Linked DNA regions of Homo sapiens. The protein of the gene in region 3 binds, or shares a complex with, the protein of the main gene of each other region. Each region holds a gene or a part of one and is shown on either strand. Other genes may lie near its edges. A codon is read from its position in the direction of its gene.

Evidence for each region. The genes of interacting proteins can lie anywhere in the genome.
Region 1: the proteins of MORF4L1 (region 3) and HDAC2 are in contact, whole or in part, in a cryo-EM structure (PDB 8C60), measured with the Homo sapiens proteins. Residues at the interface, in NP_996670.1 of Homo sapiens: Pro355, Glu356, Arg359, Lys360; in NP_001518.3 of Homo sapiens: Gln93, Arg94, Asn96, Ser146, Glu147.
Region 2: the proteins of MORF4L1 (region 3) and PHF12 are in contact, whole or in part, in a cryo-EM structure (PDB 8BPA), measured with the Homo sapiens proteins. Residues at the interface, in NP_996670.1 of Homo sapiens: Glu201, Lys204, Pro205, Leu207, Val208, Asp209, Trp211, Asp212, Tyr251, Ala252, Glu255, Val256, Gly259, Ile260, Glu262, Tyr263, Val266, Met267, Thr270, Gln271, Leu272, Leu273, Tyr274, Lys275, Arg278, Pro279, Tyr281, Ala282, Leu285, Arg304; in NP_001028733.1 of Homo sapiens: Cys62 (codon at 1,613), Glu64 (codon at 1,607), Gln81 (codon at 1,556), Cys82 (codon at 1,553), Asn84, Pro86, Pro204, Leu206, Arg207, Arg208, Pro209, Phe210, Leu212, Leu213, Ile214, Ala216, Ala217, Arg220, Asn221, Pro222, Thr223, Gln224, Phe225, Gln226, Leu227, Pro228, Glu230, Leu231, Thr232, Thr330.

Annotation. Positions count from the first base shown.
Region 1 is NC_000006.12:113,968,147-113,975,571, reverse strand, and holds the start of HDAC2 (histone deacetylase 2), read left to right. Parts: upstream 1-4,423; 5' UTR 4,424-4,663; coding exon 4,664-4,715; intron 4,716-4,842; exon of another isoform or gene 4,843-5,092; intron 5,093-5,293; exon of another isoform or gene 5,294-5,871; intron 5,872-6,912; exon of another isoform or gene 6,913-6,938; intron 6,939-7,425. UniProt on the Homo sapiens protein: Histone deacetylase that catalyzes the deacetylation of lysine residues on the N-terminal part of the core histones (H2A, H2B, H3 and H4).
Region 2 is NC_000017.11:28,948,517-28,956,458, forward strand, and holds the start of PHF12 (PHD finger protein 12), read right to left. Parts: upstream 3,003-7,942; 5' UTR 2,445-3,002; coding exon 2,379-2,444; intron 1,731-2,378; coding exon 1,549-1,730; intron 1-1,548. Other genes in the region: SEZ6 (seizure protein 6 homolog), read right to left, coding at 7,090-7,462, 7,834-7,942.
Region 3 is NC_000015.10:78,868,301-78,875,896, reverse strand, and holds the start of MORF4L1 (mortality factor 4-like protein 1), read right to left. Parts: upstream 3,008-7,596; 5' UTR 2,880-3,007; coding exon 2,840-2,879; exon of another isoform or gene 2,679-2,839; intron 1-2,678. UniProt on the Homo sapiens protein: Component of the NuA4 histone acetyltransferase (HAT) complex which is involved in transcriptional activation of select genes principally by acetylation of nucleosomal histones H4 and H2A.

The DNA.
Region 1 (7,425 bases), on a different chromosome or scaffold from region 3:
AGGGACAAATTTCTTACCACCTTTTCTAATTATCTGACTCCCATCGTTGGGACAACCAACCACAAAGTGCACACAAATGAGTCTGCCCTCTGGAAAGTTCCACCAAATAACTAAGGGTGGCCTTATTTCAGAGGGCTCCCCACAGTCATCTGAGGGCTATGTAGTCTATTCTGGGTTCCGTAAACAATCTGAAATTTTACCCTATTTGCAAGCTAACAAGCTAGTCAGCCACAGTTTCATCATGCTAGTATTAGACTCAAGACTCCTGTGTTAAGGGATAATTTATTACTCATGGCAATAGCAGTGACCAGAGCAACAGTATTAATTTTTGTGCTGCTGTTCTGAACCCCAATTCCCATATGCCAACATGAAGATGCCACATAATACTTGTACTGGCAATGGACTGCAGCATAGTGTAGTGTAGTGTAGTGTAGTGTAGTGTAGTGTAGTGTAGTGTAGTATAGTATAGTACAGTAAAGTACAGTATAGTACTTAGAGAACCTGATTTTTTTATAATGGGTAGTAATCATGCTTGTTCTTTGCTCCAGAAGGAGTCATTTTCTCTATCTTGGAACGCTGTTCACTACAAAAACATCACTGAAAAGATAGTTTCAGACAAAGCCAGCACCTCTGTTCTCAAGATATTCAGAAACCCAGAAAATTGTCTCCCAAGGGAAGCCTGTAGTTGGGAGAAATTATGAGAAACCACTAACTTCTAATTCAGATTTTGCATGAGTTAGGATTATATTCAGCTACATATAACAAAATCACAACTACAGTGGTTTACCTAAACGTGTTTTTTTGTTTGTTTCATTTTTTTTTCCCTGCATGTCACCAGAGTCCAGAAGTGCACAGTCCAGGTCTGGAACGGCTACATACAAGGTCATCAGGGACCCGGGTCCCTATCCGTCTGCTCCACTATTCTTGTCATGTGGCTTTCCACCCCATGGTCACAACATGCATACGCCACCTCCATCTGTACAGTTCTGGTGGTAGGTGGAGAAGAATGGTGACTAGATTTTAAGGAAGGTTAAAAACACTAGGATAGGAGGCCGGGTGCAGTGGCTCACGCCTGTAATTCCAGCACTTTGGGAGGCCAAGGCAGGCGATCACCACGTCAGGAGTTAGAGACTAGTCTGGTCAACATGGTGAAACCCCATCTCTACTAAAAATACAAAAATTAGCCTGGCGTGGTGGCGGGCGCCTGTAATCCTAGCTACTCCGGAGGCCTCAGCCTACTACTCCAGAGGCCTAGCTACTCCGGAGGCCTCCTGCGGAGGCAGGAGAATCGCTTGAACCCGGGAGGGGGAGGTTGCAGTGAGCCGAGATCGCACCATTGCACTCCAGCCTGGGCAACAAGGTCGAAACTCTGTCTTAAAAAAAAAAAAAAACCCAAAACACTAAGATAGGAAAGAGGAAGAATTAAGATATACATGTAAGGTGATCAGGAGACACTAACAAGTTAATTTTCTCAGATGCAGTGTGAGTATAAAAATTAGAAAATTTGAGCAAGTAGGTGGATTAGATCAAAGTGATACTGTGTTTTGAAGGTCATCAGCAAAGCATTAATCAGTTAATAATGTAACAGGAATGATTTGAAAGGTTTAGTGTAACAGTAATTGAGTAGATAAGCTATAGTTCAAAAATATATTTTTAATGTAAATGGGTAATTTGAAATTTTGTTACACAAATGCACAGTTCAAAAGTACTATAATCTCTCATTGTTAGATGTTGCTATTCAGGTTTATAAGTTATAGCTTGTAGTACTGTGTAAAGATAGGCACCATGCTTACAAGATCAGAATTCAGCTTGAGGCTGTGTGAGTTTACGACAACACTGTAGTGTGCCACTGTACTTCTCTACCTTCTGTATCGCCGTATGGAATTACTACACAAAATTAGCACTAAGAAACCTAAATTTCCTTACAGTAGAAATAAGCTTATATGAATAATTCTCTTATAGAAATTAAACTATCTGCTGCAGTTGTCAGCAGGGTTTAATTTTTAGCATAAGCTGAGGCCATCAGTTTCTTAGCAGTCCTATTCTTAAATAATCATTTCTGTTTAAGAGATCATTTTACTGAACAATTTCAAAGCACTAAATATCTTCGAGATTGAAAAAATAAGCACCTATAGATGGAGCAGAAACTAAAGAAGAACAATTTAAGGAAAAAGACAGTCCTTAACTATGCACGCATCCTATGAATTATCCATGCTTTCAGCTGGTTTCCTTTTACTGCACTGTCTAAAACTCCATATTTAAAAGGGTTTGATACAGCAGAGTTAGAATGTGGTCAATGAAATCTGGAGCTTGTCAATGGGTTTCAATAACTGATGCCACTTTTAGCTCTGCTAACATAGTAGAGATTATAGACAGAATTCTCTTGGCCAACTCCTATCATGGGATAAAACTCCTCCCACACCAGTTTCTAAAGGTAATGTAACTTGCTTCTATTGGTTTAAAATTATTAAATAATAAATACGTTTCTCAGCTAGTCAAAAGATATGTCCAGGCTCTTCTCACAAGTTCAATGTTAGGTGCTGTGGGTGCAAACAGTAATTTAGTAATTGTCACTGTTATTATAGTAATCCTAATAATCCCTTATTCACATAATTCTTCATTTTTTAAAAGTATTCCATATTAATTTTCTTATTTGAGATTCTGAATATTACTCTCCAAGTAATACTGCCCCATTTTACAGATAAGGCAATTCAAAAAACGTTTAAGTGACTTGCCCTAAGTCACAGGCACTAGAGAAACTATTACATGCAAGATAAACCTGGTCCCTTCATTTATGACACTCCATTCATAGTGGGACATTCAGACGAGTTGTGGGCAACTGCAACATGGTTAAGTGTTGAGCTACAGCATACAACGTACATGGCATGGAGAACAGTCTTGGCGGGAGAGGGGTCAGGGAAGTCTTCCCAAAAGAAACAAAGTGTCATTTCAGACTTCATTGTGTTGGCCCTGGGGAAGAACATTCACTTCTACTAAATTCACTTATTCTGTTCTCAGAATCTTCCAAGTTGATTTTGTACTTGATAGAGCACAACTTAGAAGGTCAATTAACTTTACCTCTAGGCCAGTGTTTCACTCACCGTAATTTCTCTAGCAACTTCATCAGTCACCTGGGGTCTTGTTAAAAATACAGAGGAGGGGGCGGAGGGAGGGCAGGGGCCACCCTGGACTTAACTTTTTCTAAATCTCTTGGGGGTGAGGTTGGGGAAAATTGCTGCTTTAAGCATGAACACTTTCGGGATTTTGAAGTCAAACAGCAAATTAAAAGGGGTATTTTTGGTAGTGGCTCTTAAATTCCAGCATCAATACAGCCTTTTTTTTTTTTTAATAGGGGTGTATTTGGGGGGTAGGGATAGCAATTTTATATAACTGGGATTGGGTGCTATAAAACAGGCTGTTAGCCTCCAGCCCTCACCTGCAAGGTGGCTGGCTTAAGGTAGGTACTTGATAAATGTGGATTTATTTAACAGAGGAACACTTGTATTCATAACCTCCAAGAGTTTCGAAAGTCTTTCTGCTCCAATCTTCCAGTGTCTAGCCAGCAGCATTGCTGCAGAGTGGAACAGCTAGGGTGCGTGGAGTTTGCAGAATGAGTTCAAACCTCCAGACTTATCAGTTAGCAGTAAGAACAAGTTCCTTAATCTGCCTCCACCTATAAAGAAGGAGTACAATTGCCACTTACCTCCTAGAGTTGTTGAGAGTCTTAAATGAGATTAAATATTATAAATAGATTATCAATGGAATATATTATAAATGCAAGTGCTTAGAACTGTACCTTATAAATGAGCTCCACAGATGCTTATTAAAACCCGAGCGGTGCCCTCTCCCCTTAACATCCGTAATAGGCCCCCTTACACCTCATACCCATTACGAGTCAAAATAATAATAATAATAATAAATAAGTGAACAAACGACAAACGAGAAAACTAGGCTACCAGGCACTGGGGCGATGGGCCACAGCCCGGCGGGGTAGTGGGCCCGGAAGGGGCGCGGGAGTGGGCTCTCCCCGCCGGGCTCGCGGCACGTGGTCGGCTTGGGCGGGAGCTTCGCGACAGTGGGGGAGGGGAGCAGCGTGGGACGCCGAGGAGGGGTCCAGACCGCCAAGGCTACGAGGCGCCGACTGCGCAGGCTCGGGGACAGGCGCAACCACTGCGCGCAGACCTGAGGGGGAGAACGTCCACCCGGCTGCACGCTCCCTGGATCTACTTGCGCAGCGAAAGCTTGTCTTCTTCCTCATTTTAACACTGTGTATGGCGCCGCCTTGCGCAGGTTGTTCACCCTAACAGGGCCTCTAACCTCGAGCCCGAAACGGCCTCCTTCTCCAGCCGTGCCCCTTCCTCCCCCGTGGAGGCCGCAGTGGATGCGCTCACCTCCCTGCGGCCTCCTGAGGTGGTTTGGTGGCCCCCTCCTCGCGAGTTGGTGCCGCTGCCACCTCCGATTCCGAGCTTTCGGCACCTCTGCCGGGTGGTACCGAGCCTTCCCGGCGCCCCCTCCTCTCCTCCCACCGGCCTGCCCTTCCCCGCGGGACTATCGCCCCCACGTTTCCCTCAGCCCTTTTCTCTCCCGGCCGAGCCGCGGCGGCAGCAGCAGCAGCAGCAGCAGCAGGAGGAGGAGCCCGGTGGCGGCGGTGGCCGGGGAGCCCATGGCGTACAGTCAAGGAGGCGGCAAAAAAAAAGTCTGCTACTACTACGACGGTGAGCGGCCGGGCCGGTGTCGGGGTGGGCGCGCGGGGCCGGGCGCTGGGTTCCGCGGCTGCCGTCGCGAGTGGGCGCCGGGGCTGAGGGGTGGGAAGGAGGAGGGACCGACATTTGGCCGCATCTTAACCCGTTCCCGGCCCGGCACAGTTAGAACGAGACCCTCTTCCTGGCGCAGCCCCCGCGGTTCCTGCGGGCGGGAATCAGGGGGCCCGCCCGTCTTGTCTCCTGCCTCTCCCCCTTCGGCCGTGCAGTCCGCAGCCTCGAAGGTGGCCGCCGCTGGGGACGGCGCCGGCCTACCCCGCCTTGGTGGTGGCGGCGGCGAAGGGGGCGGCCCATTCTCTCCCTTCTCCCGCCCACCATTCGTGGCAACGCAGGTTTGGGGTGCCCCGCGTCGGCCTCCTACCCCCTCGACCCGTCCCCCGCGAGGCAAAATTTCTATCCCGGCCTTGACTCTACACAAAGCCCCGCGGCCGCGAGAGCTCCGCCCCTCCCGTCCCCTTCCCTCCTCCTCGCCTGCTCGCCTCCCCTACCCTGCGTTCGGTCTGGCCGGAGCGTCTTCTCCTTCCTCGGCTTACCCTTTCCCCGGACCCCTCCTCCCGGTGGGCGCTGGAGAGTAGTTACTGAGGGTGGGGGCTCAGGTCGCGTGTGGCTTTATCACACCCATGTTTTGCGTGGGCTCCAACCCTCTCCTTTGTTCGCTGGGTTCTTTGAGCGCGTCTTTCTCAGGATTCAAATGGAAGGGCTTCACTTCCTCAATAATAGTTCGGGTTTTCCAGTTTCAGGCAGAAAGACTTCGTAGGAAATAAGAGGTGGTAGGGAGATGTGGAACTGCTACTGCTTGTGTTGTAGATCAGACTCCATGGGTCCTGGCTTGCCTCAGAGAGGTGGTTACCACCCACTTCTTTGTTGCTCTTTGTTCGATCAGGAAATAGACCCTGCTTTGGGGATTTAGAGAGCATTGGTATCTTGCAAAGGCTGTTCCTAGGTGGTGGGGAATCCTGGTATGGGAAAACTTTGAGAAGTGGGAGAAGTGCAGAAGTACTAAATATTCTAATGAGGTAAATTTGAGGTCACCGTGTAGTGAATTATAAAAGTCAGATAATTTAATTATCTTAAGCATTCTATAATTTGGAGTATGAGCAGTAACATTAAATCTTCGAATCCTGTTTCCTGTGTTTTCTTGCTCAATGGAGTAGTAACCTGTTATACAGATTTCACAAAGGCTTGGTAAATAGTTTATAGTAGGTTACTCTTGAGAGAAGGGATTCCAAAATTTAACAGAGAATCTATCCTAGGCTCCTTCTCCTGAAAGTCCTGTCTGATTTGTAGGAAGCAATACAAATTTTGGAAGCTGTTTCCTACATGTGGTGTATTGTAAATCACAAAATTTTAGAGAAGTAAGACCCCAGAGCACCAGCTCAGAATAAATCTACTTTAACTTGTAAATGACCGTACTGTCTCTTTTTAGTTAAAAAGGATTAATCTTTTAATGACTGATACATATAAAATAACCACCTGTGTCATTTGGGGAAAATCTGAAATCTTACAGAACAAATCTAAATTGATCTGCGATAGCTAGGACAGAATAATAACAGCCCTACTTTTAAAAATGATTTTTCAGAGGACTAGATATGCATTATATAAGTTGATTTGAAATTATGCCATCGTGGAGGGGTGGAGATGGAAATACATTTTAATTTCAACATGATTTACATTGCATATTTTGGGTTATTCTTGCCCTGCATTCCCTGATCAAATTGGAAAGGAAGTAACCCTGCGTATAAGTTAATTTGTAAAATTACATTGTTTCTAAAGTTTAGAGATTTATCCTTGTCAGGGCTTGGAGTAAAGAGGAAAATTTTGGTTAGGGAAAGTGGTACTGAGGTCCTTCTCGAAGCTGTCAGTTGGTGTTGGTAGTGATGGGCTCTGAGGAAGTAAGCTGCTTGTAATTTGTTGTCACCACAATGGAACCCTAGAACCAGGAGGGTACACTTGAGTAGCAGTTTCTGAACAGCGCTCTTGTCCTGGGCCCATTTATGATAACCTTCGTTGTGGGAATGGGAGCAGGCACGGGTACCCGGGAAAGGATGCAAGCTTGATAAGTAGGGTGGAAATATTTGTCTTGTGATTGTGACTTAATATGATACTTTATTGTAGCCCATTCACCTGCTTACGTGATGGCCAGCAACAAGTGAATAGCTGATAGTTTGGAAATCTCTGGTGGGTTATTTTGTCTTTTGTCTGTGACTCGTTTGTTAAAGTGGAGTTCCTAGTTGCTTATGTTTCACATACTCTTTTAATTTTTGTGGGAGGGAATTAAAATATTTTGCAGAGATTATTAATGTTTATATTATGCTAATTATTAATATGTGATAGTGTGCTGACCTCATCCAAAAACTTATATTTTTATTACCAGAGAACATTGTTTTGTCAGCTTACAAAAGTAGCAATACTAATTCTTTTTTTATTGTGAGAAGAGAATGCAAGGAAAGGAGCTTCTGTATCAAAGAATCGTGACTTTAAGGTATATAACATGGATTGGATTGGGAATGGGTTATATCTGTAGTAATAGGGTCTGAATTATCTGCTAGCCTAGGTTAGATGGTTTTAACTTCTTGGTAAAGGAAGTAGAAGGAAGAAAGTGAGTGAAAAAGAAAAGGACGGAAGTAGCAAATTCTATAACCATAGGAATCCTACCTTTAGGCTT
Region 2 (7,942 bases), on a different chromosome or scaffold from region 3:
CAATTTTACAAGCTGGGATGGGGTGCCCTCCTGGGCAAAAGTATCTTGGGAATGGTAATGGGAGTTTCCTACATAACTTCTGACCATAAACTTAATTTGCTCAGTATCAGTCATCTGTCTAATAAGTGTTCCCAAACCTGCAATTAGTACAAATATACAGTAGACACTACTCCACAAACCGAGAGATGGAACGTGAATGGAACTGTTGAGAGACCTTCGGTGAAATTTCACTTAAAACAAAATAAAAAGAGGGCTAAAAAAGGCAACATCAAACAACTGGTGGGAACACAGAACAGCCCCCTTTTCCTCTCTCCAGTCTGGCTCCTCTCTCAAACCCCTGCCTCAGTCAACTGTTGCAGAACAACAGAACGAGACCCAGTAGAACAAGACGAAATCTGGGTTTGCTGCCGCAGATGTGGGATTTTTGTGGAGGGCAGAGGTGATTTCGGCCGGCAGAAGATGGAGTTTAAACTCTTCTTTGCCGGATTGTCCTGGGCTGAGCCGCTGAGGAGGATCACGCAGCGGGCGATCAACTCAGGTCCCTCCCTCTCGGTTCGGTCTCTCCCCTCCTCTCATGTCCAGTAAGGGGGAAAAAGCGTACGGCTTTCCAGCTCTCAGCTCCTTAAAAATGCCTTTCTAGTGCCACCGCACACAATCCTCCCTCTGGCAGCAAAGAATTTTGCAGCGAAGGGCTCGCCGATCCGGAGCGGAGAAATGAAATCGGCGCCCAAGGGCAATTTTAATTGTCTAACCCGGCCCGATTTCCTAAGAGGCAGCGGCGCCGGGAGGGAGGAGGGAAGAGGGAGGAGGAAGGAAGGCAGCTCTGAGAGGCAACAGGGGGCAAGCGGAGGCAGAGAAAGGGGATCAAAGCGGCGAGATCCCAGACGGGGCCCCCGAGGAGCTTCTGCAGAAAGGACTCTGGGGCTGTCCCCACCGTTCCCCCGAGAGACGTTTGCAAATCATATATGCAGCCAAAATGGCGCTGAGAATAAAAATATAATTTAAAGGCAGGTCGCCATATTGTAAACAGAGAGGCAAAGAAGAGGCGGACTCGAGAGACACCCTCCACGATTTTTTCTACAGCCACAAGCGCCCGGTTGCCGGGGTCTGGACCAGGGCAACTCAGGTGGCCGAGGGCTCCACGCACCCACCCCGAGGAGATCCCGGCCGGGCAGGAGCCCCGAGGGCAGCGGGCGCGCGGGCAGGCAAGCGGCACTGGGCCCGGAGCTCCTCCCCTTCCTCCCCCGCCACTGCCGGCTGTCCCCGGCCGGCTCTGTCCCGGCTCCCCAGCGACTTCCAATCCCATATGGGGTTCTCTTCACTCGTCCCAACCCCCACCTCGGGGTCCGGACCCACCGCTGCTCCTCCCCGCTAAACTGCCAGAACCCGGCGGACACCTGGGGGCGGGGAGGTGCTCGCCCCGGCAGCTGCAGAAAGTCAGCTAGCGGCTGCAAGCGCCCGTTATTTCGGCAGTCAGGGGCAGGCCGGGTGAAGGAATGCGCAGAGAAGGGTCCGCCAAGAAGCTCCAAAAGGGTCCCCAGACCTTACCAGCACTGGAGGTGGAAGGCAGCCGGGCAGTGGTCGCAGCACAGGAGATCTCCACCTTCCTTGCAGCTATCGCAGCTGTCGTGGTTGGTGGCCCTGCCGCTTCTCCGGGGCTCCTTCTCAGGCTTCCGACTGCGCTTTTCTGCCTCGTCCGTCTTGGGGGGAGCCAGCAGAGCTTGGATTTGCTGCACACACATACAAACGGCGTGTGTGCACACTCGGAGCTCCCGGGCGGTCCGTCGCCCCCCCGGCGCGGTTTCTCCGTCACCCACCCCTCTCCCCCCTTTTGTCCTTCTTCCTCCCATCCAGGCTGCTCCCAGAATCTCTCAGCCCCCGGAACCAGGGGGAGCCCACCCTAACCGCGTTCCTGCAGCACAACAACGAGAACAGCTTCTTCCAAATGGGGAGGATCAAGGGTAGGGGGATGGGAAGAGGGTGCGCGGTTCCCTTCTTGCCACTTCCTTGTATGGACAGTGGGGGACTCCAAAGACCCGCTCGGGAGAGGCCCAAAGCCCGGTACCCGGACGTGCTGGGGGAAGCACAAAGGGGCCAACAAGAAGGGGGTGGGGAGGCCTGCCGGTGCAACGAGATGGAGTGGGCTGGCGCCTCGGGAGAGCGAATCGAGGGCGGCGGGTAGGTGAAACTGCTGCAAACGTCCTCGGAGGCTGAGCTCAGCCCCCTAAATTGCAAAGAGGGGAGGGAGAGGCTAGGTGAGGAAGAATCCCCCTCCCTCGGCCATCTAGGCGCTTCGAGTTTAGGACTGGCTTTGTGGGGCGGAGGGCGGAGGTTCCCTCCCGGCGCTGGAGGAAGGAGATGAGGAGGGCCACTCTTACCTCCATCAGCCCCCCTGATGTGTCCAAGTCGTACACGATCGTCTTGGTCTCCATTTTCTCCCACATTCATCCACCTCCCGGGCTGGGTGCTCTCTGCTCCGGCCCCCCCAACCCCGGGGGGAGGGGGGAGGTGAGGGGAGGGGGCGCTCCTGACCCCGGCCCCGCTTTTTTCCCAATACGGGTCCCGACTTCCTCGCCCTGGCTCCCCCCCACCCCCCGGCCCCCAGTCCCCGGGACGACAGCGTCCTCCCGACGGGCCGCGAGGGGGGAGCGGCCCCTCAGTCCCGGCCCGGCTGCTGGCTGCACAGTGGGTCCCGGCTCCGGGGGTCAGGCCTCGGCGGGGCCTAGTCCCACAGGCTAAAGCCGGCACTGGCGACAGCCGGTCCGGCCGGGAAGGCTGGCGGGCGCTGCCATCCCGGGGCTGGGGGTATCGGAGGGGGGGTGAGAGGTTACGTGAGGTTGTGGTACGTGAGGTGACTGGGGGGAGGGTGATGGGGGGTGGTCCCCGGGCTCCGCCTCTCGCCGCCGCCGCCGTCTGCGTCCCGGCTGCCGCGCACTTGGCGCAAACTTACCGCGAGCGCCCGCAAAGCCACCCGCGCAGGCGCCCCGGGATCGGCGCTCGCCGCGCGCAACCGCAGTGACAGCCGGCGGCCTGGCTCCCGCGCAGCCGCGGTGAGGGAGTACCCCCCAGCGCGCAGCCGCGCTGGCATTCGTCTGGAGGACCGAAGCCCCACCTTTCTGCCCTGCGCCAGCGCACTGAGACAAAAGGGCGGGACCTGAGGTCTCGCGCAGGCGCTTGAGAAAGCTTGTAGGGGTCAAGGCGCAGCCGCAGGAAGCTAGGGACTGTTCATCCATTGGTGTTTGTGTGCAAACTAAGACGACTCTGTTCTGCGCAGGCGTGTTGGGGGTGCTCCCCCTTCCTCTCCATAACACAGACGCCTCCCGCGCAGGCGTATTGCCTTCCGCAGGCCCTCACAAGAAAGCTGCTCCTTTCGCCATTTTGGTAATGGGATATGGGCTATCATGCCCTTGGAGTCCTCAGGCATGAACAGAAAGGAGCAAGGTGTGGTGTTGGATGGAGCTGGTCGCCTGTCGGTGACAGCAGTATTCCTAGGGATGTTGTACTTGACCGTTTGGTTCTACCATCGGGTGTGGCTGGACCAGGCCACCATATTGGTAAAGAGAAAAGCCATTTGAGACAGAAAATGACGCTTTTGGAGGCGTGTGGGATGACTGTGGTTCCTAATTCTCTCCCGCTCCTGACAGATAATTTTATCAGTTAATTGTATCCTCAGCATCCCTGCCTTGCGTGGTGGTGGCACTGGAGAGTTCCGCCTGCCCGTTACCACCCTCTCTTCACCACTGTCCCTGAGATCTGCTCTTCAAGAGGAAGCCTAAAGTGGAGAGTTTGTAATCCTGACAACGCCCAGCTACCTGCGTACCCCGGACTCCAACTCCCAGTTTGCAACGCCAAAGGGTCTAAAGGGCGAACGGGGGCGCATTGCATCCTGGGAGCAAGAATCGCGATAGGTCTGATGGATTGTGGGAACTGTAGTTCCATGTGCGTGCGATGCACTCTATGGTAGGATAGACCCGGGGAAGAGTCATTTGCCGGCCAGGAAGGGATACTTTTGAGAGCGTCAGTGCTGCATGCCGGGATTTGTAGTCTGAGGGCCCGCCTCGCATTCTGGGCGGGGATTCATGCTCCTTTTCAGGGCGCCCGCTCCTCCCCTTGGTATTGCCGTCAGAGATGGGCGGTTGGTTATTGCTGCCTGATGGTGGATGAAGCAGTGGAAAAGAGAATTGTATCGTTGTGCTTGACACTAGGGGTTTAGTTGGAATTGTTGCTTCGTAGCTGTGCTCGGCCCACTTTTAATGTTAAGGGACACAGCATTCTCAGAGTCGTCAAACTAGCAAGGGTTTAGAGACCATCTGATTTAATCCCCTCTTTTCCAGATGCACAGGGAGGCGCAGTGATTTGCCTAGGTCACATAGTGCATTTATGGCAGACCTAAGAATTGGATTTCTTGATTCTCAAGCCAGACACTGTCCATTACACTATGTCGACTGTGTCTAAGGAATTACTATGCTTGCTTTGGGGACAGTAAGGAGGATGAGTTAGACAGAGTGGGGATGTCAGTGTATGGAGTCTTAGGTTTCTGTTTTCCTGACTTTTCGCTTTTCTGATGACCCTCTTGGTGCCTGGAAAGAATGATAAGGTCATGGATGGTGGGGTGGAGAATGTCATGTGAATTGGCTGCCCTCTGCTTTCTACCATTCTGAGCCAACAATAAACTTCAGGAGCTGTGGACCAGAGATGTGGCCATCAGAGAGGGGAGGGCTGAGCTAGATTGTTTGTATGAAAGAGGCAAGATTTTCTATCTCCTATGGCTATATTTTATGTCACAGGCTCTCAGAGTTTAGAACCTCATGTGCCCTCTCTCTTTGGCTTTTTTTCCTACTGCTCAGGGCCCAGCTGTGCTGCTGTGTTAACCTGGAGGCATTATGGAACAGGTAAGTAAGCCATTGGCATCCATCCACTGGACAAGGCTTTGCTTTGATCAACACCATCAATTGCAGCTGATAATAGGAACTATGGGCTAATGAGGGAAATAAGACTTGGCTCTGTTGACAAGAGCCAGGGAAACTTCACACCTCTTCCTCTTGGAACTTGCAGGATGAGGTTAGGCCAGTGGGGCCAAGGAATGCTCCCACCTTGGAGAGCTCCCGCCCTGACAGTTGAGGGGGGATTGAGGGGCGAGCAGGTGGGATACAGACGCCTTTGGAAGTGACCTCTTGTGGCTAATCTAGGCACTGCACTCTGCATGGACAAGAGCTTCTCCATCCTTCAAGGTGGCTTGTGCTAGAGCCAGGGGTAGGCAGCATGAGTGGTCAAGACTTCCCTTTTGGAAGACTGTAGAAGCAGAAGGTGCTGGTTGCTGCTATTATTTCTTTCATGGATTTTTCTCTACTGGTTTCTGAGCTCCCATAATTTCCTGTTGCCTGCCTCTTGCTGTCACTCTTGGAGAGCAGCAATGCAGGGCACACCTCTCAGCATGGAATGTGCATACTGGGGGCCAACGCTGGGCACTTTCCATCTTTGTAGGTGCTGGGGCCCATAGGGAAGGGGCAAACTTGAGCACATCCTCCCAGCCACCTTTTTCCAGAGCCCATGGTTAGGGCCTTTGCCTAACTTAGGATCCAAGCCCGTAAGCTGCATTACCACTGCTCCTGACAATCTAAGGGTTTTGTAAGGCCAAGCCAGATTAGGGCTTCATGTTTTGGGGATCAGTCTCTGTTTCCTATTCTAATTTCCCAAGCCTTGCTTACTTAGAAATAAGGGGAAGGAGAGATGCATCAGACTTCCTGAGCCTAGTTAGCATTGAGAAGGGCATCAGTGGCGTTGAGAAGGGATTTGGGAGTGTGCCAGCCTGTAGTTCTGGACCTGGCAAAGAGGAGGAAATAAGGCATTGGGTGGATGTGCAGTGGGGTTCCTGGGCTCCCACATCCCTGTAACATCAGCCATTGGGGCCTCTGATTTTGCCTGCTATCTGTTGCACTGTCCCTTTTGGTACAGGGGACCCTGTTCAACTGCATGCAATAATTTCTTTTAAAATAAAATCTGAGCACTTTGGGTGGCTGAGGTGGGAGGATCACTTGAGCCCAGGAGTTGGAGACCAGCCTGGGCAACATAGTAAGACCCCATCTCTACAATAATTTTTTTTTAAATTAGCCATGTGTGGTGGCCTGCATCTATAGTCTTAACTATTCAGGAGGCTGAGGTGGATCACTTGAGCCTTGGAGGTTGAGGCTGCAGTGAACCGTGATCCAGTCACTGCATTCCACCCTGGTTGACAGAGTGAGACCCTATCTCAAAAACAGTAGTAATAAAATAAAATCTGAAGATGATTGATTGGTGGGTCTAGCATGCCTTCTGGTCCTGAAGTCCATATCCCATTTATCTCCCACCTCCCGTCCCTCCAAGAAAGCATCATTCACCTGGCCATTGCTTTTTTTTTTTTTTTTTTTTTTTTTTCCAAAAACACCATTTTAATAAGGAAACAACAGAAATAAAAGATTGTTCTCTGGCTGGAGCCCAGACCCCATATAATACATTACATGTACAAAGTGGCTTTCAGCCAGCTCCTGGGCGTCTCCCTGGGGCTCTCCTACCACCTGTTCCATGCCAAATTCCTGGGTCCTTGGACCTCTGCTCCTCTCCAGAATATGCCCACCCCCTCCCCTTATCCCATAACACAGTGGTCAAGAGGAGAGCCTGACAAGTGGCTGGAATTGGAGGAGGGACTATTAGGGTGAAGATGTTTGCAACAGCTAAATAAACATCGGAGGAAAGTCTCCCTTTCCTCAGGGTATAGGGTGGTCAGTGGAAAATGGCGTGTCCTGCTTTGGTGTGGAGCATGAGTGCCCAGGGAAGCCCAACCTGAGGTGGGGGTAGGGTCCCCCTGAACCCCTTAGGATCTCCTAGAATTACTGCCTCCACTGGGACAGGGCAGGAGGCAGAACTGTCCAGAACTTTAGAGAACTAGAGACCTCCCAAGAGGCTGATGTTGGCATGCCAGGACTACCCAGAGGTCACCGTTGAGAGGAGTTTTGGCCATTGGTGATGGCGCTGTGAGGAGTACCCTGGTGCAGTTCCCACCATGGTCAAGTTAATCCTGCTGCAGGTTGCCATGCCAGGGCGGGATGGTGGTCATGTGGAGAAAGGTACTCCTGCTCTGCTAGTGTGTTCCAGGCTGGTCCAGGGCATGAGGAGGCTCAGGATGCTGGCTGTTGATGCTTGTGCTCCAGCTATGTTCTTCCCACAGGTAGATGCCCCCTGACATGGGCCCAATGAAGGGCCCCAAGTGGGCAATGACACCAAGAAAATAGGCCATGGTGGGCATCGCAGGCGGGGAAGGGCACAACTTCTTGAGGGCTTGGTGGCATCTCCTCCTAGGTGGTATATACAGGAGGTGGAGGGACAGCAGGAAGCAAGGAGCCTTGCTGCTGGACTGTGGTGCAAGTCTGAGTTGACTTCCCTAGACTGCCCCCACCTAGATGGAGACTTCATATTCTCTCGTCTCCTGCAAAGGAAAGAGACTGCTGGGAGTTGGAAACTTGTATTAGGTTTGCCAGGCCATAATTCACCTTCCCTAGGAAAAGGGAAAAAGTGAGAGGGCTTGGCAGGACCCTCAGGGTTATCTGCCCAAAGAAGCAAAGAACTGGGTCTTGGATAGGGTGGCAAGGCTGGCATGGTTACTTACTCCAGTCTCGTAAGTTGGATTGTCAAACGCTGACTCTATGGTAATGCGGTTGTAGGGGCGGGGGCGGGGGCGGGGCAGCTGCAGGGAGCTTTTTCCCTGGAGCCTGTGGGGCAGAGAAGCCTGCAAGTCAGGAGCACTGGGTAGGAGTGAGGTATGCAGGTATGCAGAGCAGAAAGAGAAGCCAGACTCACCTGGAGAAGTAGAAGTATACACCTCCTACCAACAACACCATCGCCACCAGTGGCAAGAAGATGGCAGCTGCAATGTGGGCAGCATCCAGGGTGCTGGAGGCAGCAGGTG
Region 3 (7,596 bases):
TTACATAAACTCTACAGTGTTTCAAGACGATTCTGTTAGCACTCATCAAATATTCTTTTTCCCTTGCAAGATATTCTCCGATCATCTAATTAATAAATTTTTTTTTTTTTTGAAATGGAGTCTCACTCTGTGGCCCAGGCTGGAGTGCGATGGCAGGATCTCGGCCTACTGCAACCTCCGACTCCCGGGTTCAAGCGATTTCCTGTCTCAGCCGCCCGAGTAGCCGGGATTACAGGAGCCTAACACCACGCCCTGCTAATTTTTGTATTTTTAGTAGAGACTGGGTTTCACCAGGCTCACCAGGCTGACCAGGCTGGTCTCGAACCGCTGACCTCAGGTGATCCACCGCCCCCACCCACCTCGGCCTCCCAAAGTGCTGGGATTAGAGGCGTGAGCCACCGTGCCCCACCCACTAAAATCATTTTTAAAACGTGGTTACACAATTCCATTTTAAACACAAGTACAAAACACACCTGGAAAGTAATGTTAAATACAGACTCTCTTACACAGCTTTCAAACCCTTACCTGGGGATACCTTGGTTCCTACTCTTCTCCAATTACCCCACTTAAAACGGCACAAGGAAATCTCTGCTGCTACTCCTCTCTTAACTAGCAACCCTCTAGAACTAAAGCGCTTCTTCCAGAACAGCCATCCTTAGGTTGTTCCCACAGCAGCGATTAACTTTTTGTGCCTTGACAGTCTGATAAACCCTACGAGCCTAATAGTTTCATAAATACATAAAACACACACTAGTACAAAGGAAACCAACTGTACTGAAACAAAACACTTTAAATGTCACGTTCTATGACATTACAGGACAAACAAGACTTGGCTGCTAATACAATAACTACCCTAATTTTGAAGAAATAAGAATGCGATAACTGAAAACATCTTCCATAACTGTAATGTTGAGATATGAAAATATACTGAAAATGCTAATGTGGTGGTTTTTTTCGGGGTTTAGGGGGAGCAATTACACTGTTAATTGAAATACTAAACTTGGGAGATAGAAAAAAAAATCTTCCTCAATTTCACGCACCGTCTCAATTAATGCACTGACTCTAGATTAAGAATATCTGCTCTAAAATGTCTAGTAAAATAATGAACCCATAGGAGGTAGAGTCAACAGCTTCTCAAGGTGAGAGAGGGGTATTAAAAGTCACACGGCCGAGAGCGATGCCTCACGCCCGTTAACCCCCCACAACTTTGGGAGGCCGAGGCGGGTGGATCGCTCAAGCCCAGGAGTTCGAGACCAGCCTGGGCAACATGAAACCCCGTCTCTACCAAAAATACAAAAAAAAAAAAAAAAAAAGAAAGAAAAAGAAAAGAAAAAACAAAAACCCTAAAAAACAAAACAGAACAAAACAAAACTTAGCCGGACGTGATGGCGCGCGTCTGTGATCCCAGCTACTTGGGAGGCTCGCTTTAGCCCGGGTGGGGGGCAGAGGTGAGCCGAGATAGCGTCACTGCACTACAGCCTGGGTGACAAACATCGTCTCAAAAATACAAACAAAAAAAGTCACTCATTAACAAAATACCCCTAAAACCTCCTTAAATATTCCATAAACTTAAAATACGCAGTACTACGGTTTGAGGTTTACGGCTCTAAAAGGAATTCTAATGCAAGTCTAAAAACCCCTAGAACAAAAATCGTACGCATGTAGACATCGTATTTACGGTAACTAGCATAAATTTCCATAGCAATGAAAAGGAATGTTAAAGTGTTCCTCCTTTCTCAACAGGACTTTACTTCCTTTTTAGCTATTAGACCTCCACCTTATTATACGTTAACTGAAGCGTTGTGAAAATTTAAAGAGCTGCCTTCCACTGGGAGTCAGTCTAACCTTACCCAAAACTCATGTCAATCGAAAACCAATTAATAAAAAGAAATTCAACTTTCAAGTCATTGTTAAACACTGCAACTAATCAAACAATTACTGCATTTAAAAAATGACGTCGAGGCAATGGGACTTACAAATGCAAACGGCGTCAACACTGCATTCAGATCATTTTTATTTACTTTTTACGAGCAACTGCAAAGCGAGAGCTCACTCACATTACCATAGGATCTCGGCACTGCGCCCAAGAATAGCAGAGTGATGCCTCCAGGCAACACAAAGCGGAGGAAAACGCTCATCTCACTTTTTTTTTTCTGTCCCCACCCACCACTCTGTGGTATGCGGAGGGCCCCGGCAACCTTCTGGTCGTCGTGGAAGGGGGCGCTGCATCTGCCCGTAAGCTGTGCCTCCATACGGGACCGAGACGCCGGCGGCCATGATGGCGCCGCCATCTTGCAACGGCCATTTTACAACGCACTTCTCCCGCCCCGTGGCGCCAAACCCACCCCCATCCGCAGCTGAGTTGCCACCGAACGCAACCACCCCGGGGCTCCAGGAAGCACCGAAAAACCCGTCGTAGCTGCCCAAGCGGCCGGGCGCGCCGCAGGACCGCCCGAAACAGCCACCGCCCCTCCCCCCCCGCCGCCACATCACTTCCCCTAACCGCCGCCATGGCGCTCCCGTCGCCTCCCTACAATAGGCTGCTCTCTCCGCGCCCTCTTCCTCAGAACAATAACAAACACTTGACGAGGGTGTGCCACGCGCCAAACGCTCTCTCTCCCACTCTAACGCCTGCGCAGCACTCTCGCTTCACAAAGCGCTTTCTCACAATGACGCACCGGAATTGCCATCCGCAATGCGCTTTCCCCGCACAAAGCACTGACCGCCGCCTTCTCAGGGCGCAGCCCGCGCCGCCCCCGGCCCTCAAGCCTCAATCACCTCGAGCCCGCCTCTATCTCCTGCGCCGTTAGGTGCCTTTTTCCCAAAGGCGCACACTCACCCTCCTGGAATTTAGGCTTCGGGTCCTGCTTCGGCGCCATTTATAAGTGATTCGCCGCCTCCTCCTTCTCCCACCACCCCCGACTACCGCCCCCTACTCTCTACCCCACCCAACTCCGCGTCAGACGCGCCGTCAGGCACTGCCAGCTCTACATCCTGGGCCGGATTTGCCAGCGCCCGCAGACCTCACAGCACCGCGACCCGCGCAGCCGCTGCTCCAGCCAACGACAGCCCGCCGCGCACGCGCCCCTGCGCCCGCGCCGCCCCAGGGCACGCCGGGACTGGTAGTTCGGAGTCGGTGGAGGCGCCCCCCCCCCCCCCCCGGGTGGGGGAGGGGCCGGCTACCCTACCCCACCCCACCCCCGCTTCTCTCTCCATGCCCCCGGCTGCTGCGGGTTGGTAAAGCGGGGATTTGATTTCGTGGGAGGTTAAGGCGGAGCTGGCGATGGGGGAGAGTGGGGGTGGTGAGCCACCAGTGATAATAGAATGGGAAAGGCCCAGTTGCGACGTCCCTTGGGCAAATAAGCCCCCGTTGATGTTGAAGTAGTCGGAGAGAATAGGGCTGGCTCGGAAACCTACATTCAATAGCATTCCGCTAGTTTTTGCATAGAAAGGCTTTAGGATCAGCAAGAGGGTGGGAACTGGGGTCCGCTTCTGGAAGCTTCGTTGTTTAGCAACCCCACTGCGGAGCCTATTTGGTGGGATTGATAGCCATTTGTTGGCTCCTAGGTCTACCTCCTCTTCTCCAGCCCAGCCTTGCGGAAATGAGGATGATGACGTGGGAAACACTAGTCACGCTTTAGCTTTTTGAGATAATGGAGCTCTGCTTTCTGAAAAAGGCTAGTGTGAATATGTCAACGTCTGTATTCCGTACCTGCCCTGTTTGTGCTTCTTGTCACTCTAAACAAACGGATTTCTTCAATATTATACCTTTTTTTTTTTTTCTGAGATGGAGTGTCGCTCCGTTGCCCAGACTGGAGTGCAGTGGCGCGATCTCTGCTTACTGCAGCCTTCGCCTCCCAGGTTCAATCGATTCTCCTGCCTCAGCCTCCGGAGTAGCTGGGATTACAGGCATGTGCCACCACGCCCAGCTAATTTTTGTATTTTTAGTAGATACTGGGTTTCACCATGTTGGCCAGGCTGGTCTGGAACTCCTGACCTCGTGATCCGCCCGGTTTGGCCTTCCAAAGTTCTGGGATTACAGGCGTGAGCCACCGTGCCTGGCCTAAACAAACGGATTTATGTCGTTCCCTGTTCAAAAACAACTTTGTTGGCTAAGCTGCAAAATAGCACCATTTCCGTCAGTTTATTGTGAGAATTACATATACGGGCTTAGCGCGGTACCCAACAATGAATAAGTGCTCAATGAACTTTAGACGATAAATCTCAAAGTCCTTAGCCTGGTATTTAAATCCTTCCACAAACAGCCCTTAGCCTACCTGCATCCCCTATGTAAACCTTTATCCTCCTACGCAAACCTTTGTCTCCATGACTTTTCTTTTTTTTTTTTTTCTTTCTGAGACGGAGTTTCCCTCTTATTAACCAGGCTGTAGTGCAAAGGCGCGATCTCAGCTCACTGCAACCTCTGCCTCCCAGGTTCAAGCGATTCTCCTGCCTCAGCCTCCCGAGTAGCTGGGATTACAGGCATGTGACACCACACCGGGCTAATTTTTGTGTTTTTGTAGAGATGGGGTTTCTTCATGTTAGTCAGGCTGGTCTTGAACTCCCGACCTTAGGTGACCCGCTGGCCTCGGCCTCCCAGAGTGCTGGGATTACAGGCGTGAGCCACTGCGCCCAGCCTGTCTCCATGGCTTTTCTAAGCCCTCCCCTGCCCGGGTTCCACACCCCACCAATTCCGGGCCCCTCTCCATTTATCTGACTTCCATTTCTCCTTCAGTCTTTTTAACACAACCCCTTCTCTGACAACAGAAACCCACAAAAACCTTCCTTATTCCAGTTGAATATACACCATCTTGTCACGACTACTTCTCGCAAGCTTGTCCAACCTGTCTTATTTTGTTGTTGTTTTGTTTTGTTTTGTTTAGGCTTTTAGCACCCTGAAGCCATGGTTTTTAGTTTCAGTCTCTAGTGATAAGTGGAAAAGGGGGATGAGGAAGGGGCTTTACTGGCCCAACCAGAAACAGAAACTAAGAACCCATGACTGTATTCACTCCCTTGGACACCATTGCTAAATTGTAAAAAGGGACAAGGGCTTCTTTGGACCCCACCCCACCAAAACTGTCCTGTACACTTTTAAATTTTTTATTGAATATAAAATACGTACTTTTTTTAAATTATTTTTTTGAGACAGTCTCGCTCCGTAGCCAGGCTGGAGTGCAGTGGCACAGTCTCAGCTCACTGCAACCTCTGCCTCTTGGGTTCAAGCGATTCCCCTGCCTCAGCCTCCTGAGTTGCTGGGACTCGGTGTGCCATCACGCCCAGCTACTTTTTTGTATCTTAGTGGAGATGGGGTTTCACCATGTTGGCCAGGATGGTCTCGATCTCCTGACCTTATGATCCTCCTGCCTTGGCCTACCAAAGTGCTGGGATTACAGGCATGAGCCACTGCGCCCAGCCAATTTTTTGTTGTTGTTGTTGTTATGAGACCAAGTCTCACTCTGTCACCCAGGCTAGAGTGCAGTGGTGCAGTCTCAGCTCACTGCAGCCTCCACCTCCTAGATTGAAGCGATTCTTCTGCCTCAGCCTCCCAAGTAGCTGGGTTTACAGGCGCATACCACTATGGCCGGCTAATTTTTGTATATTTAGTAGGGATGGGGTTTCACCATGTTGGCCAGGCTGTTCTCGAACTCCTGACCTCAGGTGATCCACCCGCCTCGGCCTCTCAAAGTGCTGGGATTACAGACGTGAGCCACTGCGCCCAGCCTGCACATACTTTTTTAATCCAAACGTTTAAAAATACAAAAATGAAAATAGTGGGCCGGGCGCGGTGGCTCACGCCTGTAATCCCAGCACTTTGGGAAGCCAAGGCAGGCGGATCACGAGGTCAGGAGATCAAGACCATCCTGGCTAACACGGTGAAACTCCATCTCTACTAAAAATATAAAAAATTAGCTGGGCGTGGTGGTGGGCGCCTGTAGTCCCAGCTACTCAGGAGGCTGAGGCAGGAGCATGGCATGAACCCAAGAGGCGGAGCTTGCAGTAAGCCGAGATTACGCCACTGCACTCCAGCCTGGGCGACAGAGTGAGGCTCCATCTCAAAAAAAAAAAAAAAAAGAAAATAGTGAAAGTCTCTTTCCCACCTCCACCCCTCATCTGCCCAGTTCCCCCACTGTTATGAGTTGTTTGGGAATCCATGAGTTTTTTTATCCTAGAACCCTCTTTGTGTTATTTCTTCTTTTGTATTGAAGTTAACTTATTTGCCTTTATGTGTTAATTACACAGGTAATATTCAAATATTTGGGCTCATGATGCAACAATTGAGAAATATAAAATACAGGGCAAAACTTAAGGAACATGTTTATTCCCCGCTCCCCCCATTTACCTTCCCACCATTTGGCGTGTGCATTTTTCTCCATTTTTTTTTTTTAACCATAAATGGTCTGTACATATTGTTCAGTTGCATTCTTTTTTTTTTTTTTTTTTGAGACGGAGTCTCGCTCTTTCGCCAGGCTGGAGTGCAGTGGTGAGATCTCGGCTCACTGCAACCTCCGCCTCCCGGATTCCAGCGATTCTCCTGCCTCAGCCTCCTAAGTAGCTGGGATTACAGACGCCCGCCACCATGCCCGGCTAAGTTTTGTATTTTTAGTAGAGACAGGGTTTCACCAAGTTGGCCAGGATGGTCTCGATCTCTTGACCTTGTGATCCGCCCGCCTCAACCTCCCAAAGTGCTGGGATTACAGGCGTGAGCCACCACGCCCGGCCCAGTTGTATTCTTTTTTAACATAATAATATATCTTGGAGATTGTTCAAATTACATACAGGCCTATCTCACCTTTTTTTTTTTTTTTTTTTTGAAACAGCGTCTTGTTCTGTCTCCCAGGCTGGAGCACAGTGGCATGATCATGGCTCACTGCAGCTTGCAGCTCCTGGGTTCAAGTGATCCTCCTGCCTCAGCCTCCCCAGTAGCTGGGACTACAGGTGGATGCCACCACACCCAACTAATACTTTTATTTTTGCAGAGATGTGCTCTCGCTATGTTGACTGGGCTGGTTTCCAACTCGTAGCCTCAAGTAATCCTTCCACCTCTGCCTCCCAAAGTGGTGGGATTACAAACATGAGTCCCTCACATTTTCAATAGCTTTCGACATACCATAGTATAAATATTTCAAGATTTATCTAATCTTTGTGCACATTGCTTTTTCTTTTCTTTTTTTTTTTTAAGAGACAGGGTCTCACTATGTTGTCCAGGGTAGCGTGTCAACACAGCCAGGCTATGTTGTCCTGGCTAGAGTGTCCAGCCTGGAATCCTAGGCTCAAGCAATCCTCACGCCTCAGCTTCCAGAGTAGCTGGGAATACAGATCACGCCACCATGCCTGCCTTCTGCACTTTGCTTTTATTTTTTCAGGACCCAAGAAGTAGAATTACTAGGTCAAAGAATGTGGGCATTTTAAATTGCCTTGTGAAAGGTTTCATCATTTTACATTTCAACTAGCAATTTAAGAAAAGGCTTGTTTTTCCACATTCTTGACAAACATGGCATCATGGAGTCTCTGAAAACTGGTGTTTGTTTTTTTTGAGATGGAGTCTCACCCTGTCGCCCAGGCTGGAGTGCAGTGGCACGATCTTGGCTCACCGCA